2 separate regions of the Homo sapiens genome follow, and region 1 is linked to region 2. Evidence: fine-mapped expression QTL. A gene starts in region 2. The other region holds a variant in brackets. All regions are shown on one strand. Distances are from middle to middle. Region 1 has its middle 31 kb from the start of LIRIL2R. Region 2 holds the start of LINC03066 (long intergenic non-protein coding RNA 3066).

What was found.
Region 1: its variant is fine-mapped to the expression of LINC03066 in hippocampus (GTEx, PIP 0.98). The same link has a PIP of 0.9 or more in cerebellar hemisphere.

The regions. Positions count from the first base shown.
Region 1 is chr6:144,082-154,073 of GRCh38, forward strand. It overlaps the pseudogene SEPTIN14P6 and the pseudogene CICP18. Among named protein-coding and RNA genes, the nearest start is that of LIRIL2R, 31 kb to the right of the region's middle. The variant C/CA (reference allele first, on the strand shown) is at 4,427.
Region 2 is chr6:200,284-210,275 of GRCh38, forward strand. It overlaps LINC03066 (long intergenic non-protein coding RNA 3066), which reads right to left and starts at 5,201. Exons shown (of 8, transcript NR_126020.1): 1 at 4,604-5,201. RefSeq lists enhancers at 8,928-8,977, 9,789-9,988.

The sequences.
Region 1 (9,992 bases), 56 kb before region 2:
GAGCTGGGCTGAGCCACCCGGGGAGCAGAGCCTGAAGAGAAACTGACTGGGCTTTAGGGGTCGGGGCAGAGGGAACCCCACGGACATGGATCCCACACTGGAGGACCCCACCACGCCCAAATGCAAGATGAGAAGATGTTCCAGCTGCAGTCCAAAGCCCAACACCCCCAAGTGTGCCATGTGTGATGGGGACAGCTTCCCCTTTGCCTGTACAGGTGGAGAAGCCGAGGACAGGCTCAGGGAACCGGAGACCGAGAAGGAGCTGTCCTCTTCACTGCACGTGCCCTGGACCAGTGCCGGCCCTGATCATGCAGCTCTTCCAGGCCCACTGCTTCTTCCTGTCCACTAGGCCACAGCCGCCCTCCAGGCCCACTATGCACACATCTTCCCCTCCAAGGTTTGTTCTGCCCCTGCCCTGACTCCCAGCCCTGTGGGGGTCCTGACCGCACCTCACCTGGCTCAGACTCTTGACGCTGCCCTGGCTGCCCCACCACTGCCTCTGCCCGAGAGTCACGTGAGGCTGAGAGTAGGGGCAGGGGCAGCAGTGGTGCCAGTTGGGGGGCGGTCCAGTGGGAGGAGCCTCAGCCTCGCGGGCTGCTCCGTGGGACTGATGACTGCATGATCTTCTGGGCACCTCACGGATCTTCAACTGCAGGTGAAACGGATGCTGGTGGTGGGTGCAGGGCCGCTGGGAGCTGCTGCATGGTTCCCAGAGGCTGGACTGGGGCAGGTGCCAACTGAAGCTGCTGGGTCAGCATGGGCAGGATGTTCTGCACACAAACCTTGGAGAAGAAGATGTGTGCATAGCGGGTCCACTGCTGCTGCCCCTGCCCTGACTCCCAGCCCTGCCTGACCCCACCTCAACCTGCTCAGGCTCTGGCACAAACCTGGCTGCCCTGCCACTGCCTCTGCCCCAGAGTTGGGGCCTTGACAGCCTGGTTGGAAGGGGACACCCCAGCCCTGCCTCAACACCTGGGGGTCTCCATAACTACCACAGGCAGGTGGGCAACCCCAAAGATCCCAGGACTCACAGTACCCCCTGAGAACATGGACAGTATGTGGGGGTAGCAATGGAGGGCAGGATGGTTATCTTCTCCCAGGTGAAGCCATTTAATCCTTTCAGTTTGGGACGGAGTAAGGCCTTCCTCTTTTTTTTTTTTTTTTTTTTTTTGAGACCGAGTCTTGCTCTGTCGCCCAGGCTGGAGTGCAGTGGTGCGATCTTGGCTCACTGCAACCTCTTCCCGCCGGGTTCACGCCATTCTCCTGCCTCAGCCTTCCGGGTAGCTAGGATTACAGGTAGACGCTACCACGTCCGGCTAATTTTTGTATTTTTAGTACAGACGGGGCTTCATCATCTTGGCCAGGCTGATTTCGATCTCCTGACGTCGTGATCTGCCTGCCTCCCCCTCCCAAAGTGCTGGGATTACAGGCGTGAGCCACCACGCCTGGCCAAGGCCTGCTCCTCTTATCTATACCCCCTAACCCTGCAGCTGTGCCGGGGGAAAGCTGGGCAATTTCCCTCCTCCGAGCCCCTGTACATACCATGAATTGTGGGACCTTCAGAGCTTTTCACTTTTCGGAAAATAGCTCCTGCTGGGGCTACAAGATGGAGTGTGAAGAGGGCCTTGGGCCACAGGGAGGCGCCTGTGGACTAGGGGGAGTTCATGCACCCCTTCTTTCCCCAGAGGGGCTGGACTCAGGTGAGTATGGGGGTGGGGGCTCCTGCACTTCGACACAGGCAGCGGGAGGGTTTTCTCCCCATTCCCTCTGCACTCCCAACTTGAGCTATACTTTTTAAGAAAGTGATTCACCCTGCCTTTGCCCCCTTCCCCAGAACAGAACACGTTGATCATGGGCGATATTTTTCATTGTGCCAAAAAGTTGCCATGACCGTCATTAAACCTGTTTAACACCAAATAATAAGGAAAATAAAATAAAAAATTCGGGCATGGGCAGAAACTCACTCCAAATAAATTACCTACCAAAATATATAATGGTGGAAATATTCCAAAATTCAATATTTTGGGATTTATACACAAAAGATAAACAAATTAGAGGCCAAGAGGCTGCCGGAAGGGAAAAACGGGGCCTGGAATGGCCGACGTGAGGAATGAGCTGGGCCTAAAGAGGCCACTGGCAGGCAGGAGCTGGACCTGCCGAAGTGGCCGAAAGGCAGGAGCTTTGGACTGGGGAGGCCTCAGTGAGGCGAGAGCTAGCTGGGCGTGGAGAGTCCGCTGTGAGGCCAAGGCCGAGGCCAGGCCCGTGCAGGCCTTCGAGAGGCAGGAGGCCGGGCCTGCAAAGGCCGACTGGAGATCAAGTTCTGCGCCTGAAGAGGCTGCCAAAAGTCAAAAGCGGGGCCTGGGAAGGCCGCCGAGAGCCATGAGCTGGGCTGGGCCGAAAGAGGCCACTGGGAGGCAGGAGGAGCTGGGCCCGGAGAGGCTGCCAAAAGGCAGGAGCTTCGCCTGAGGATGCCACAGTGAGACACCATCTGGGTCTGGAGGGTCCACTGTGAGGCAGAGGCTGGCCTGTAGAGTCCGACAGTAGACAGAAGTTGGGCAAAAGGCTGATTTGAGGAAGTTTTGGGCTTCAACAGTCAGCCACGAGGCAGACACTAGGCCTGGAAATAGCCCGACAGTCATGAGTTGGGCCTAAATGGGCCACTATGAGGGAGGAGCTGTGCCTGTTGAGGCTCCTCCAAAAGGTCATCTGTACACACACAGTAAAAATCTGGGAGTAACTGAAGACAGAGTTGGTAAGTAAAATAAGAAACAGTTATAAGAAATTAAACTATGGTATCCATAGGCACCCGGTAAAAGGTCAGTTGATGTTAGCTGCTACTTTTTTGTTGTTTAGAGACAGGGTCTCACTCTGTCACCCAGGCTGGAGTGCAGAGGCCTGATCATGACTCACTGCAGTCTCAGCCTCCCTGGGCTCAAGTGATCCTCCCACCTCAGCCTCCCAAGTAGCTGGGACTACAGGAACATGCCACCACACTAGGCTAATTCATGTATTTTTCTATAGGGATGGTGACTCCCTTTGTTTCCAAGGCCTATCGCAAACTCTTGGCCTCAAGCCATCCTCCTGCCTCAGCCTCCCAAAGTGTTGCGATTACCAGTGTGAGCCACCACACCTGGCCAGCTGCTACTTTTATCAATATTATTATTATTCCACTCAATTAAAAATTATTATTTTCAAGGCTATGCAACAGTATGTATCCTACAGCGTAATTGTAAAAACATATACAGTCGTCATCCCTCAGTATACAGAATTAGTTCCAGCCCCCCATCTCTGCATATACCAAAATCCATGCTTACTCACGTTTCGCTGTCACCCCTCTAGAATCCACGTATACGAAAATTCCAAATGTTAGTTGGGCATAGTGGCAAGCACCTGTAGTCTCAGCCACGTAGGAGATTGAGATGGGAGGATCGCTTCAGCCTGGAAGGTTGAGGCTGCAGTCAGCTGTGATAGCACTACCACACTCCAGCCTTGGACAAAAGAGGGAGACCCTGTCTCAGAAAAAAAACAAAATAAAACAGGTTAGAAATTGTAATCTAACCCTAAGCCTAACCCTAACCCTAACCACTAAGCCTAACCCCTAACCCCTACACTAACCCTAACGGTAACCCCTAACCCTAACCCCTAACTCCAAACCCTAACCCTAACCCCAAAACCTAACCCTAACCCTAACCCCAAACCCAACCCCAACCCGAACCCCGAACCTGAACCCTAACCCTAACCCCTAACCCTAACTCCTAACCCTAACCCCTAACCCTAACCCTAACCAATAACCCTAACCCTAACCCTAACCCTAACCCTAACCCTAAACCCTAACCCTAACCCTAACCCTAACCCCTAATCCTAACCCTAACCCTACCCTAACCCCTAACCCTAACCCTAACCCTGATTATTCAGGGCTGCAAACAGAAAGGATTTTGTTCACCGTCGATGCTGCCCTGAGTTGTCCCAAAGCGAGGCCGTGCCCCCAAGGTGTGTGCTGAGAAAGCTGCTCCGCGTTTTTGGTGTCCCCCGGGTCTGTGTTAAGCAGAACGCAGCTCTGCCCCCGCAAAGGCACCCCGCGCCGGCGCGGGCACGCACAGACTGACGCGACGTGCGCGCGGGAGGCGCGGTGGATGCGCAGAGAGCACGCCGCCGGGCGGGGGTTGGGGTGGCGTGGTGCAGGAGCACAGTCGCACGCCCCTGTGCTGGGGGTGGGGCGCGGTGCAGGCGCGGAGACGGGTGGAACCTCAGTAATTCGAAAAGCCGGGCTCGACCGCCCCCTGCTTGCAGCTGGGCACTACAGGACCCGCTTGGTCACGGTGCTGTGCCAGTGCGCCCCCTGCTGGCGACTAGGGCAGCTGCAGGGCTCTGTTGCTTATAGTGGTGGCCAGCGCCCCCTGCTGGCGCCGGGGCAATGCAGGGCCCT[C/CA]TTGCTCACAGTATAGCGGCTGCACGCCGCCTGGTGGCAGCTAGGGACATTGCAGGGTCCTCTTGCTCACAGTGTGGTGGCAGCACACCCCCCTGCTGGCAGCTGGGGACACTGCCGGGCCCTCTTGCTTGCAGTGCAGTGGGGGCACGCCCTCTTCTGGCCCCTGGGGGCACTACAGGAACCTCTCGCTCACAGTGTAGTGGCAGCACGCCCCCTGTTGGCAACCAGGGCACTGCGGGGTCCTCTTGCTCATGGTGTGGTGCCCGTATGACACCTGCTGGCAGCTAAGGACACTGCAGGGCCCTGTTGCTCACAGTGTAGTCGTCGTACGCCACCTGCTGGCAGCTGGAGACACTGCCTGGCCCTCTTGGTGGCAGTGTCGAGGCAGCACGCCACCTGCAGGCAGATGGGGACTAGGCAGGGCTCTCTTGCTCCCAGTGTGACGGTTGGCGTCCCCTACTGGCTGCCTCCTGCACCACTTAAAGTCAGAGCATCAGTTTTTAAGCCCCATCAGTTCTGTAAATTCAACTGAAACGGAGCTAGTACTAGGGAGAGCTGATGTCCCAGTTCTTGTCTAACTTGGAAGAAAGATTTTCACCAAGAGGCAGTACAAAAATGGGAGACAACTTCATTGAAAAGAAATACAGTGTAAAGAGCTCATTGTAGAAAAATAGGGAGGAGTGGGCTGATCGTGCATGAAAACATCCTAGGAGTCCTGTGCAGGGAATTTTATTTTGGACTTCTTCACATTCCTGCCTCTGTCTCAAGTCTCCACCTGTTCTCTTTGTCTGGTTTTCCTGCTACTGCCTTAGGTCCCCGACTTGCCACACTTAGGCTTGTGGGACCTCCTCACTGTTGGTTGAGGTACATGTGTGGTGATCAATCCGAATCCACTCTGGCACCAGCCTCCTTCCCGCCATCCCAGGCAGGCTGACAGCGGTCACGTTTGTACCCAGTGTGCCTGCCTATCTCTTTTGAATGTCCTTCTTTGCCCTAATCTGCACTTAGGGTGCCAGGTTTCTCTTAAGAATGTCCCCTTTGTCCTTCTTATCAGCATGTAGCTACCAATATTCTGACATTTTTATTGCAGAGTGAATGATGGTTGGGGCATCTTAAAGAGAGTTCTAGGGTTTTTCTTTCTGCATAGGTACCTCTTCGCACTCCTACCCACAACTGACAAGTGCCCATCCACTCCAGCACTAGAGATGCTACTAATATGTGCATTTTTGGTGGTCCCTCCAGGTGAGCCTTCTCAGACTTTCCCTTTTCCAGGAGCTCCCCCTCCTGTTCATGTCTAGCTATCTATCTCCTCTAACAGAGCCCACTATCCTGTGTGTTTCCCAAAAATAGTGATGGAAGGATTAATTGGAAACCATAGGAAATGATATGCATGTAGATGAAAACTTTACAACTTACACAAATAATCACTCAAAATCATCCTTACACTAAAAATGCAAAACTATACCATTTCTAGAAGAATCTATAGAAGAAAAGCTATGTGCCTTTGGGTTTGGTAATGAATTTTAACAAATGACACAAAAGGTTGATATACACAGAAGAAATGACAATGTGGATTTCTTAATATTTAAAGTTTATACTCTGGAGAAGACCTTGTTAAGATAACAAAAAGACAAGCCACATATTGAAGAAAATATTTGCAAAATACAGATCTGAGAATTTGTATTCAAAATATATTTAAAAATTCTTAAAACTAAACAATAAGTTAAACAGCCCAATTAAAAAGGCACACAGATCTCAACAGACATCTTACCAAGGAAGATCTACAGATGGCAGGTAAACATACAAAAACATGCTCAACATGCTAGAGAACTGAAAACCACAATGAGATAGCACAGCTGGTCTGCATCTCTTAGAACTGCTAAACTCTTTAAAAAATGACAAATTGCTGGAGGAAAAACAAGAACTCTTTTCATTGCCGGTGGAACACAGTGTATAAGACCAAAATATGCCACCCCAAAATATAATGGTAGGAAACCAGAATATGCCACCCCAAAATATGTCCCTTTTGCTTAAGAATTATTCCAAGCTGATTATTTTGAAAAAAAAAAATGCTAACAAAGGAAGTTCTGAAAACAGAGTAGAAGTTACCCTTGTGTAAGGGAAATTTACATCTATAAAGGAAATCCCCATTCAAAAGCTACCTCTCTCAACACCAAGAAGAGAAGGATAACTAAATCACTAAAGAGTCTTATCAATGGAGACTGCATGGACTTAAGTCTGTATAACAAACCTTACCCTTGTCTACTGTGCTTTTGCTGGCTAACTCCCCACTACTGCACCTCAAATCTTCTTTCTTTAAGTTCAACATAGTATTTATGCTTGAATTGAAAGCCACCTGTTGGAGATTTACTCATTTTGCCCTGAGTATCTCCCATGTATCCATAAGGTATACATGTTTTTAAACTTTTCTGTTTTTCTCATTTTAATCTGTCAGTTTTTACAGAGGGTCCCATCTCAGAATTCCAAAAACATAGAAAATTATTTTTCCTCCCCTATTACAAGTTGGGCACTTTTTTCCAAAGCTAAACAAGTTTCACCTTACAATCCAAAAATCACATTCCTAAGTATTTTGACAACTACTTTGATGCTATTTCCAAACAAAAGCTACCATGCAATTATTTACAGAAGCCTTATTCATAATGAACAAAGGAAAAAAAAGGAATCAGAAAGTCTTACAATAGATGACTGTGTGGGAATCCACTCAGACATCAAAAGTTGTTATAAAGATTATTTAAATGAAAGCATTTGAGATACTGAAGATAAAGGAAGAAATCTTAGCAGAACTTACTTTATCCAGTTAAAGCAGAGCTCCCAGAAAAATACAGCTGCCATTAACCCCATCCAAGGAGTTTCTTGCAAATTCAGCTGCCATGAAGACAGCGTACTCTTTCCCATTAGCAATGATAAATGAAAATGAAATCCTAAGCTCCCAACTGACTGAACAGACCCACTCTTGGCTGAGGGGACCCAAGAGTAAATTTCAAAACTGAGTTCTCAGCTTTGCTAGCATTTGAGATTGTGATGGTTGAATAAACTAATTAAGAGCCCAAAATGAAGGCTTGGAATAAATAACTGAGGGTGTCTAATATCCCAGTTTTTCATCCTAGAATGGGCAGAGTCCTTGACCCCATTCTAGGGAGACTTCCAAAAGAAAAAAGACCTGCATTTCTTCAACAACCCACATTGAGAGACTTTCTTGCACTTTTGACCTGTGGCTAACACTCCTCACCTTTCATTCTGTCATCAGTGTTTTGGGGAAACACCTTTAACTCTCTATGATTCACAGGTTATTAAGTGGTCCTTATAATTCCCTCCAGAGATGCAAAAGACTAATGATGGTGTCTGAGCTCACAGCAGCAAGCAGGCGTGTGTGCACAGCAGCCACGTGGCTCATCTGCTAGGAGCTTACTAAATACGATGTTCTACAACATTGTTTAACGCAAGGGGAGACGCTCCTACTCAGAGGGTTTAATTGCTCACCTACTTCTTTTTCTGCCTTCTTGGGCTCCTAAAATGAAAAAAAACCCTGGAGTGATAAAGTGAATCAAAGGGGTACCAGCTGCATCACAGCAAAATAGATTCCTAAAAAATCCCTGGCCTAAGATGACAGCCTTGGCTGGATAAGCTTGAATGTGCTGATAGTGGACATGGTAGAATGAAGGTGGTTGAAATGTTCATATTAAAGAACTTCCACCCAGATTGCAAGAAAAGAGAGAGGAATGGAGATGGCAGCACAAGCCCCTACAATAAAAGCAGATGTTTTGAGATCAGTTATATTTGTCCTGAAAAAAATAAAAACAGAAACCAAAGTTTAGCCTGAGGCTACAATTAATTGGGCAATAAGCCAGAGGCATATATGGCATAGACAGACTTAAACATTTCTCCCTTGTATTAATACAAATACTAAAATTACAAATAAACTGATTCCAAATAAAACAAATACTTTAAAAATTTAATGAATAAACACTGGAGTCTACAGTAGCATTTGAAGGAGATCTCACAAACAGGTTTGGTTTCTGAAGGTTAGAACTGATGGTCTAGAGAATTCATTTCATTCCAGAGACAGAAAGAGAGGAATTTCTTAGGCTCCTTCAGGAATGCGTCTGGCTTTGCATCATCTTTGTATGTTTGAACTATGCATATGGCGTAAGAAAACAGGATTTCACAGATTTAAGGTGCGAAAAGTCACTGGGTTCTCTTAAGAAGTCTGGGATTATTCTGCTGGAAAAATAAGTTTGTTGAGAAAAAATGAGTTGGAGGAGGCTGTTATTGAAGTGAAGCAGAATTGTTTTTACTAATCTGCTTATTACCCACTCTGTAGTGTGGAAACAAATTATTCATGCACAAGGTCCTCTCACTGTTCCTGGAATGCAGTGGAAAGAGAACAGATTAGTTTTTCCTCCTTCAGAACACAACCACTAGAAACATCCTACCTCAGATGAGATATTCCCTAATTATTTTCAAAAGACAGTGAAAAACGATGGATGTAAATGTTTGCTACAAAATAAATACATGGTAGAAACAGAAGCATCTGGGTCACAGCTATATTAGAGCTACCTGTGTTCCCCTGTCACTGAGATTAAAACAAAAATGTCCAATACAATCATTCACAGCATGGGAGAGGGGAAGTTGAAGGGTTAGGAAACGCCAGTCATAAAAGGATTTCAGAATTTCAGTCCATAAGGAAGTGGTTTTGTGCATTGTCTGTTCTTGTGTGCAAGGTGAAGTCTGGAGAACAGAAACGTGCAGTAACAAGGGCTCCTTTGTCCATATCACCTCTCTAGATATCAAGTTTCAGACATGTTGCATTTTAATTGAAAGGTTGATATAATTTTTTGAAAAAGAAAACTTGTGGTGTTTGAAGTGACAAAGACTGCTGTGACAAAAAAGCAGGGAAAGGGAATTTTTTTTAAAAAAGCAAACAACAACAACAAAAACCCACAAAAAAGCAAACAGCAAACAAACAAAAAACAGGGGAAGAAGTCGAAACACCCTGGGTTGTGACTACTTCCAGGAAGGGGCTACAAGAGGCAGTTGGAAATTCTATTTGCTTTGCAACTGTGAGTTTTCCAGCCTGCTCCCTTTCTAAAGTATATTACTCTGCTTTTGGTTCATGAAGTTATCCATTTCTGTTTTCTGGAACAGCTATGTATTTTCTTTATCTATCATCTATCTATCTATTTACCATCTATCTTTTCTACCTTTCGCTATCAAGAGCTTGGGTCAAGCAGGATAGAATTCCAGTGTATGTTCACTCTACCATTTAAAACAAGAGCTCTTGTAGGCATTCTCCATCACATCATAAACCTGAGCTTTCTAAAACAGGGTGTGGCAAACTACCATGCATGGGCCAGGTCTGACACAGTCTGCGTTTGTAAGTAAAGTTGTAATGGGACACAGCCACATACATGTGTTATACAATGTCTCTGGCTACTTTCATGGTATAATGGAAGAGCTGAGTCATTGAGAGAGGGACAACATGGCTTGGAAAACTTGAAATATTTAACATTTAGCCCTTTGCAGAAAATATTTGCTGACTCTTGTT
Region 2 (9,992 bases):
TCCTAAAGAGAGGCAGCCACTGACACAGCGCCAAGCCTAGGGGTAGGGATGGAGCATCACTACCGACTGCTCCTGGGATTGCTGAGATGTGGGGCTGGAGGTCACAGAGCCAGCCACGGAACAGCAACTGTGAGCCATCAGAAGCCACAGCACCCCATGCAGCAGGAAATTCTGAGGAAGCAACAGCTGATGAGGAAGAGGAAGGAGAAGAGAGAAAAGAGGTAACTTATTCCCATGAGGAGAAGCATCGAGGACACTCGGGGCCCACTGGTGGTGGCAGGGTGCATAGAGGATGAACTGGCAGCCAGAGGTGAGCACACTTTGGTCAGTGCCCAGTTAAAATGAATGTTTCCACTGAAAAATATCTCAAACCTTTGAAGAAAGGATTAAACTGTGCTTAGTATCTTCTGAGACACATAAAAGTAGTTAAAGCACTTTAGAAAGAATACCATCAAAATAAATTAAATTTCTTTTTTTTTTTTTTTGAGACAGAGTCTCCCTCTGTCACCCAGGCTGGAGTGCACTGGCACTATCACTAAACCTGTCTCCTGTGTTCAAGCGATTCTTTTGCCTCCATCTCCTGAGTAGCTGGGATTACAGGCATGCACCATCATGCCTGGCTAATTTTAGTAGAGATGTCGTTTTGCCATGTTGGCCAGGCTGGTCTCAAACTCCTGGCCTCAAGTGATCTGCCCATCTTGGCCTCCCAAAGTGCTGGGATTACAGATATGAACCACTACTCCCAGCCATGAGTCAAATTTTTAAAAGAATGCATTGTTTCTCAAGTCATGTCTCTTAATTAAAAAACGCACTTATGTGCTGGGTAAATGAGATATTATGTCTTCCAGGTTGAGAAATTATTATTATTTTTTTATTTTTATTTTTTTGAGACAGAGTCTCGCTCTGTTGCCAGGCAGATGGAGTGCAGTGGTGTGTTCTGGGCTCACTGCAACCTCTGTCTCCTGGATTCAAGTGATTCTCCTACCTCAGCCTCCTGAGTAGCTGAGACTACAGGTGCCCACCACCACACCCAGCTAATTTTTGTATTTTTAGTAGAGGTGGGGTTTCACCATGTTGACCAGGATGGTTTCTATCTCTTGACCTCATATCCACCCACCTTGGCCTCCCAAAGTGCTGGGATTACAGGTGTGAGCCACCATGCCCAGCTGACTGAAGGTTATTTTAACAGCTGATTAGGAAAAAAAAAGTGAGACTTCACATTAGGAAAAGTCCTCCCATCTACTGTCAGAACATGCCTGTGAAGGGTTTGAAATTTCTCTGAATTTTAGGTTCATAAACAATCAAAACAATCTTCAGCTCTGCCCAAAACAGGAAAACAGCTGGAACAATAAAAAGTAAAGGACCCTGTGATTCACAGAACCAAAGTGAATACAGCTGAAAGCAGACTGTGCCTTTAAGGTTGAGTTTATATTGAACACCTTGTTGAACAAGCAGGCAAAAATTTAGTCATCCAAACAGATCATGCTATTCTTAAGCCTTTGTTGGACTCTCATCTGCAGGCTGTGGTTCTAGGAATTTTGGTCAGAGTGGGCCGTGCTTGTTATTTTTCAACAGGTCAAGAAACAGTAGAAAAACAGCAGACTGTGAAAAAATACTTACAACAAAGGGTTAAGATCCTTAACATAAAAGAGCTCCTAAAAGACACCATGAAAAACAAAACAATTTGGCTACCAAAAAAAAAAAAAAAAATACAAGGCAAAAGATATCGTTATCCACACAATGGGTGGGCTTGGTCACTTGGTGGAGGACAACCACCCGCAGAGGATTTAGCAGGGAAATTTTACTACTTGCAAGGAGACCAGCGATAGCTCCCAAATCAGCACCTGCCCAAGCCAAGGGCCAGGTCAGGTTTTATAAGCAAAGGGTAATGACATGTGATCTGATTGGATATTGCAATGAGGTGATGCCTGGTGGCACAACCTGACTGGATCTTGCCATGGGGTGAGGCCAAAGCTCCATCCGATTGGATCCTGGATCCTGAATCCAGGCATGCAGTGTCCTCTTCTTAATTCAGTCCCTGGCTCTCAGTCTGAGCACTTAGGTTTGCCCTGTGGCTGCACACTTTGTTTACCTGGGTGTGCTCAGGCTATGTGAACTGAGGGTCCATGGCAACTGAACAACAACTCACAACTTTGTTACATAAAAGTCGAACCAGATTGGCCTGGTGTAGCTACCATAAGAGTAGGCAATTCAAAGAAGAATCATAAATGGCCAATAAGGATTTTAAAAAATTCTCAACCCTCCTGACGATCAGAAATATGCAAATCTGATAATAAGATACTCCCACTGATCAGATCAGCCAAAGTTAAAAGTATTCGCATTTGTGCACAACCTAGGGCACTGTGTGATCTGGGACCATTTGCATCAGAATCATCTAGTGGGCTTGTTTAAAGGCAGATTCCAATTGCCAAAACCTTGAAGGACCCAGATGTCCTTCAACTGGGTAACTGACAAACTGTGGTCCATCCATACCATGGAACACTACTCAGCACTAAAAAGGAACAAACCATTGATACAGACAATAACTCAGATGAATCTCATAGGCATTATTCTAAGTGAATGAAGCCAGGCTTGAATGTTACACACTGTATAATTCCAGACTTGAAAATAAAAAACCAATAGTGACAGAGAAAAGCCCTGTGTTTACCAAGGGAGTGAGGTGGGGTCAGGTGTGAGTAGAAATCGGTAGCTAAGGGAGCTTGTTGGGCTGGTGGAACTTTTCTGCATGCATTGTGGTGGTTACACAAATCCACTCCCTGTGCTAGAATTCATAAAACCCGCACACTCCACCACTGACCTCCACAAAGCCAAATTTACTGTGTAAAAAGTAAACAAACAAACACAACCCATATGAGTCCACCTCAGACCTAAACATCACAATCTCTAGGGAGGTGGGGCTGAGCTGATGGCTTTTCCTAACAAGCTCTCAGTGGTTCTCATGGACACTACGTTTTGAGGACCACTGGCTGGCATCACAATGGGGGTGAATGTGACTAGGAGGTTCTATCAAAACATAGAATGTGCCTACCCTCCACCCAGTGCTTGAACATCCCTTCCCCCTCATCACTCCGGGGAAGGATCCTGCTCAACACCCAACTACTCATTCAAACCTGGAACCCGAAACTTTAATGAAGGTTGCTCTACTGAGATTTTTCTCCCCACCGAACATGTCTGTGACCCACAAAGAAGCCCATGAAAGAAAGTGCCCAGAGAAACCAGAGCTGTGGAAGGCTGGCTCGACGGTGCCCCTCACTGCCCCTGAGAAAACAGACCCATTTCCTCTCTGCCCACCTCTTTCCCTGACATGTCCCCAGCAGCAGTCCTGTATTCCCAGTTCCTCTCAAGATGTTCTGAATAGTCTCTGGGTATCCTCTCATTGCCTTCAACTCAAGATATCTAAAACCAAAACTCATTGTCTTCCCACTCAAAACGTCCTCCCCTTTCTGCTGCCAACCCCAGTCAGTATTGTCTGCAGGCTTCCAGGCTTGGATCCTTGACTCACGGCCACCCAAGCTTCCTTCCCCCGTGTGCGATTAGTCAGTAAGTCTTAGTAGTGATGAGGGCTTCCTGCACCGTGACTGTCCGGCATGCTTTTTCCTCTCCCATTTCCTCAGCCACCAGCAATTCCAGGCCCCTCTTTACTTCGTATGTATTCTAGCGAGATCAACTGGCAAGACAAAGCTCAGACGTCACCTCCAGAAGGTTTTCATGGCTTGTGATAATCTGGCTTCACCTGTATTCTACTTCATGAGACAACTGACTATCTCGTGGCCTCTTCCCTGTGGCCTCCATCTCTCTTTGCAGCTCCAGTCCCTGGCACATGCTTGGCACACAGCTCACTGCAGCTGCTCAATGAGTTTTGTGGACTGGATGTTTGCTTGTGGGAAGTGGAAGCAGGGACCAGATGGATGGGCAGAAGGATTGTCCTATTCAAATATGCACTGGTGGTCCTGTCTTGTGTTTGGGCACCAGTTGAATCCAAGAGCTCTCAACCTGTGGAGTGTCGGATGAAATCTATGGAATCCCTCCTCAGAAAAGCAAATGAACCCACACAATGATGGCGCAGTTTCATTGTCATCAGCCTCCTGAGGCGTATCCACAATCACCAGGTCAGAAAACCCTGCTCCTTCCTTGCATTCAATTGGGCACATCACTATCAAATTAATTTTTCTGAAACACGACAAAATCTCATCAGAAATATACCACACTTTGTTGTCCCAAATGCTTGCCACCAGAAGTGTTTTGTATTTCAGATTTTTTGGATTTTGGAATCTTTGCATTATACTTACCAGTTTGGCATCCCTAATCCAAAACTCTGAAGTCAGATTAGCGATATTAAACCTGTACTAAGGAGAGCAATTCTGAATTTTTTGGCTTGGCAGCCACGGTTATTTTTGTGCCCCTCTAAATATACCTACTACCTACTATCCCCAGTGTGTAATCAGGCCATTGATGCCAGAGAGAGGTGTGAGTAGAATGATCACCAGTAGTGCCTGCCCTGAGAACGTGGCCACTGGTGCCCAGAGCAGAGTTGTCTGGGGACTGGCTGGAGGCCCATAGAGAGGCCCACACAAGAGCTCACCTGTGTTGACCAGCTCTCTTGCGTGCTCCAATTCCTATGCTGTTGCCTTGACTCAGCATGTGGTTCTCAGTGGGGTGATTCTTCCCTGCAGGTGACAAGTACTAATGTCTGCACACATTTACAACTAGGGAGGGAGTGCCACTGGCATTGAGTGGGTGGAGGCCAGGGATGCTGCTGAGCTTCCTGCATTGTACAGGACAGCCCCCACCACAAAGAACTTTCTGGCCCCAAGTGTGCATAGAAAAGATCCTGGTCTGCAGAGCCCTGTCCACCCATGGTCAATCCTGAAACTCTCCTTTGAGTCCCCCAGACTTTCCTGGGCCCTCCGGTCTTGCAGGATCTTCTCTTTCTTTCACACCTGTCCTTCCTGGGCAACATTTCTCCCCGACAAACCAGCGCCTGACCCTTGAGCAGGTCTCACCCAATCCTGCGCTTGTTTTAACCATATCCTTAGTTAGGTTCTAAGGTCATTGCGGGCAGGGAGGTTCATTTTCCTATAGGCCTGAGCACAAGGTCAGCGTGTGATAAATATGTGTTGACCCTCATAGATCCCTGAAGCACAGAATGAAAAATAAAATTGCTTAAATTTACTGATTTCAGGATATGGGAACAAAGGAATTGTGTTTAAATGTAAAAAAGAAGTTCTAGAATTTCCACAGAATTTACATTCTTCTTGTTGTAAGGAATATGCCTGGTAATGGAACTCAAATATCAGCTTGGATCGCCCTGGCCTTTGAAATTTGAGGTAAAATTAGGCTTAAGCCGTATCCAGCGCACAACAGAAACCTCAGTGTCTCCCACCCAGGGACTGTCTCGGAGGCTGTGTGTTCAGATGTCACTTCTGCCTCCCGGCATCTGCTCCTGAGTTTTCACTCTTCAGCCTCCCCTCCCAAGGCCTCCTTCCTACCCTGGCACTGGGCTTCTTGCCCCGTCCCCCTAGAATCCGTGGCACAGGGGCTTTATCTGTGTGGAGTCTCTACAGACGGTTAGAAACACAGAGTCAGCTAGAAATTAAGCAGTAGGCAGCTGTGATGTTTTTTGACAGCCTCATTTCTAAAACCCCTTCAGCAACCCCAGTCAAGGAGCTTCTCCCTCTAGACTCCAGCCTCCTGCTGAGTCACCTGCACCGTCTCTGCCTTCCTCCCCTTCCTCACATCCTCCCTGGCCCCATCTTCCAATTCCTCTGAACTTCTGCAGAGCAGCCAGCTCTTCCTCCAGCTTCAACTTCCCCACCCCAAGCAGGTGGGGCATCCTGACCCTGAGCAAAAGCAGTTCTCTCCCTAAGAAACACCGGTGACTTTTGTTCATGGCACTCCATGGATGCAAAGCTCTGAGTTCTGTTGAACAGGGACTCACCTACGAGTGGTGGTGCTATCAGCTGAGACGGGAAGCAGCACTCAGTAGAAGAAGAAAAGGCCTGGACTGGTGTGGGCATGCACTGGCTCGTGAGAAGCAGGGAAGGTCGCTCTTATGGGTCCCGTTTCTAAGTGACGTTCACGGCCTGGCTGTGTGTTGTCCAAGTGTTTTTCTTTCTTACCAAACCTTGGAGGTCTGGGAGCACCATATATGTCACACATGTGGGCAGGACTGGCCGTCGGGGCCGATGGGAGCTGCCTGGCGCACAAGTCCCTGGGGATGCCCATAAGTGCCTCACGTTGGCACTGAAGAAATGCAGACAGTGTGCCGCTTTGGGGAAGGCTTGTTGTTGCTGACTTTACACACACACACATATATATATACATACACACACACATATATACACATATATATGTATGTATACAGAGTGCTATAAAGTTATTCTTATTTTGTGAGTGATACAACCTTATTATTTAAAAATTAGGAAGAAAGTTAAAAAGAGGGTAAAACTCATATCTCTTCATGAGAAATGATCACTGTGACTATTTCAGCATACTTCCTCTGGCTCTGAGAAGAATCTTTAGGAAATAAGGAGCTTTTCATCTCCAGGGAGATGCCAGGGTCAGTTTCACCCCAAGGCAAAACCCTTCTCATTTTATGGGGCCAGATGCTGAAGATCAGAAACAGTTCGATCCTGCCCCGAGAAGGTGTCCGCCTCATCCTTGGAGTTAATGTGGCCACTTCCTAGGCAACTCAGAGGCTTTATGGGTCCTTTCGCCTCTTAAAATTAATTGAGTTATTCAGTAAATACAGGTTAAGCATCCCTAATCCAAAAATACAAAATGCTCCAAAACTGTTTTAGTACCAAAACGACCCTTAAAGAAGGCACTCACTGGAGCGTTTTGGATGTTGGATATCAGATTAGGGATGCTCAGCCAGAATGAATTCTGCAAATATTCCAAAATCAAAAAAAATTTGAAATCTGAAACACTTCTGGTTCCAAGTATTTCAAATAAGGGACACTCAACCTGCACTTAGTGAGTGATGCCAGGGAGTGGTACCAGTCACTGTTCTAGGCACTGAGGGTGCGTTGGAGACAAAGTGACAGCAACGTCCATGCTTCTTCCTCGCAGAGGACAGAGCCATGAGGAGGGAGAGTCTCTTCACTTCTCTGGGCCTTAGTTTCCTCCCCAGGCAAATAAACTGAGGAGGCTGTACCCAAATAAACATCGTCAGAGCTTAGGGGAATCATGTGGAGTGCCTGTTTGTCTTAAACACAAGCATTTCTTTAAGGTTCCTTAAAAAAAAAAAAGAAAAGAAAAGCTAAAAATGTTAATGACCTCTGCATTTTATTTTCTGGTATGTCCAGGTTTTTTGTTTTTGTTTTTAGACAGAGTTTTGTTCTGTCGCTCAGGCTGGACAGATCACGCAGTGGCATGATTTTGGCTCACTGCAACCTCCACCTCCCGGATTAAGTGATTCTCCTGCCTCAGCCTCCTGAGTACCTGAGATTACAGGCACCCACCATCACAGTCAGCTAATTTTTGTATTTTCAGTAGAGATGGGGTTTCACCATGTTGCCCAGGCTGGTCTTGAACTCCTGACCTCAAATGATCTACCCGCCTCAGCATCCCAAAGTGCTGGGATTACAGGCATGAGCCACTGCTCCTGGCCATATGTCCAGGTATTTTTAAATATAAAAACAAAATTTGGCCAGGTGCAGTGGCTCATGCTTGTAATCTCAGCACTTTGTGAGGCTAAGGTAGGCAGATCACCTGAGGCCAGGAGTTCGAGACCAGCCTGGGCAACATGGTGAAACCCCGTCTCTACTGAAAATACAAAAATTAGCCAGGCCTGATGGCCCATGCTTTTAATCCCAGCTACTCGGGAGGCTGAGGCAGGAGAATCACTTGAACCCAGTAGGCGGAGGTTGCAGTGAGCCGAGATCACACCACTGCACTCCAGCCTGGGCAACAGAACAAGACTTCATCTCAAAAAACAAACAAACAAACAAACAAAATAAACCCCACAAAATTTAAAATTCTTTGTAGAGTAGAAATGATGCTCTGGGAAAATACCCCCTGGGCAGGTGGTGGCTGCACATCCACTCTGGGAAAGACTCTTCAGCTCGAAGATGGAGACCCTCTTTTCCTGCTCTCACACAACATGGGGATAACGTTGACGCGTTCTTGGTAGGCAGTGCAGTAGGCAACATATCCAGACGCTGGGTGCCAGTGGTAGGCAGGAGAAACCACCGAGTGGGAGCAGATTTTCAGAAAAGGGAAACTAGAAAAAAACTTCCCAGCTGTGTCTCAGACAGGCCCTGTGGTCTGAGCTCCCATCCTTGACAAATGAGATTACTGAATGCGTGTTTAGCAGTTCCAAACGCTATTCATGATCCGACGTGACCCTCTAGTCTCTCAGACAGAGCGCAGCCCTGTTGCACAGGTGTGGAAATGGAAGCAAACAGGGAAGGTAACTTGCTGAAGGTCACACAAGCAGGACCTCGAACCATGGCCCCTAACACCGATCGGGCACTTCTTCCCCTGTTCTGTTTCTCCTCTCTGGGACCTAAAATCCCTAAAAATTCCCTAAAAGTGGAGGTGTGCTGGAAGAGTCACAGATGGCTCTGTTTTGTTTATCAGGAAATTGAGCAAGGTGCCTAACGGAAACCAAAAGGGCACCGGGGCACGTACACATGCCCTGACTTTGTTTCTCTCTTTGGCTGGTGTAACTGCTGCTACATGGACAGCGGAGCACACTGATGACTTCACAAGACTGATGCTGAGCGCCCCTCCTTGCGGCAGATCCTGCACCTCCTTCTTCTCCACACTCACTTGCAGGCATAGGTTGCTGCCTGGCTGGTTCCATGTCACCGGGTCTCTACCCTGAGCCCGTTGCAACACAGTCAGGGCTCCCAGGGTAAACTATGCTGGGAGTCCCCTAGGAAGAAGAAAGGGGAAGGGCTGAATTCTAAAGAAAGCCCAAGACCTCTTCATGAAGCACCTCTCTTTCTCTGCTTTAGAGATTGCCCCAGGGCTGCTGGGGCCGAGCACCAGCTCCCCATCAAGGCCCTGGAGAGGCGCTGGCAGCTTTCTGTCTTCTCTGCAGACCTTTGGTTCCTCCTGCCCCTCGTCCTTGGCAGAAGGAGCCTCAGTTTCCCAGTCTGTAAGGTGCCAATAATCATAAGCTACCTCAATGGTGTTTTCCTTTGAATTTTGAGAATTTTGAGAATGGAAACTTGACTATCTTCATCTCTCTTCCTATACCCCCCATTGACACGTGAATCAGCGTTTCTCAGAATACTGCAGGTTTGGAGTGTGTGTGGCGGAGGAGGGCGGAGCAGCGTGGAAGGTGGAGAGGTGGGCGGTGTCGGGGATATCAGCAGGGCAGTGGGCATTGGAGGGGTGCCCTTGGCCTCAGCCACAGGGCCGTTCCAGAGCCCTGCGTGGGCGAGGCCAGGGCGGCGCGTGATGGTGCCCTCCGAGAAGCACTGGGACCAGCAGGAAAGGCTGCCTGCCGGTGCGCAGGAAAAGGGAAGAGAGCCGGGGAATTGCTTTTTGACCCGTAAGGGAGCGTTTCTTGGTGGATGGGGAAATCAAAAAATTGACTACGGTGTAGTCAGCTACATCGTGTACCAATTTTCAAATACCGGTGAGATCAGTAAAAAGAGAAAGGGAAGGAGATCACAGATAGCATGAAACCAAGCCATCAATAATGAAAGTACCACTGGTTACTGAGCAGCGTCTGCTTCTAACTGACTTTGCTGGGGGAGGGGCGGGACAGGTACAAGCAAAAACAGCAACGACAGCGCAGCAGTTGCTTCATGTGAGTAATAATTGAATGGTACGAGGCTCTTCCACATTCATGTATTGAAGGCCCAAGTGCGGCCAAGGTCTCCCTGGTTCCTGAGGTTTGTTTCATGCTGGGTTCCTTATACTCCAGATGTCGGGAGGGACCCTCAGGGGCCGAGGTGCCCACACCTGTGCTCCCTGCATGACAGACTTCCTGGGGTCTTGGCTCCCAGTCTGTC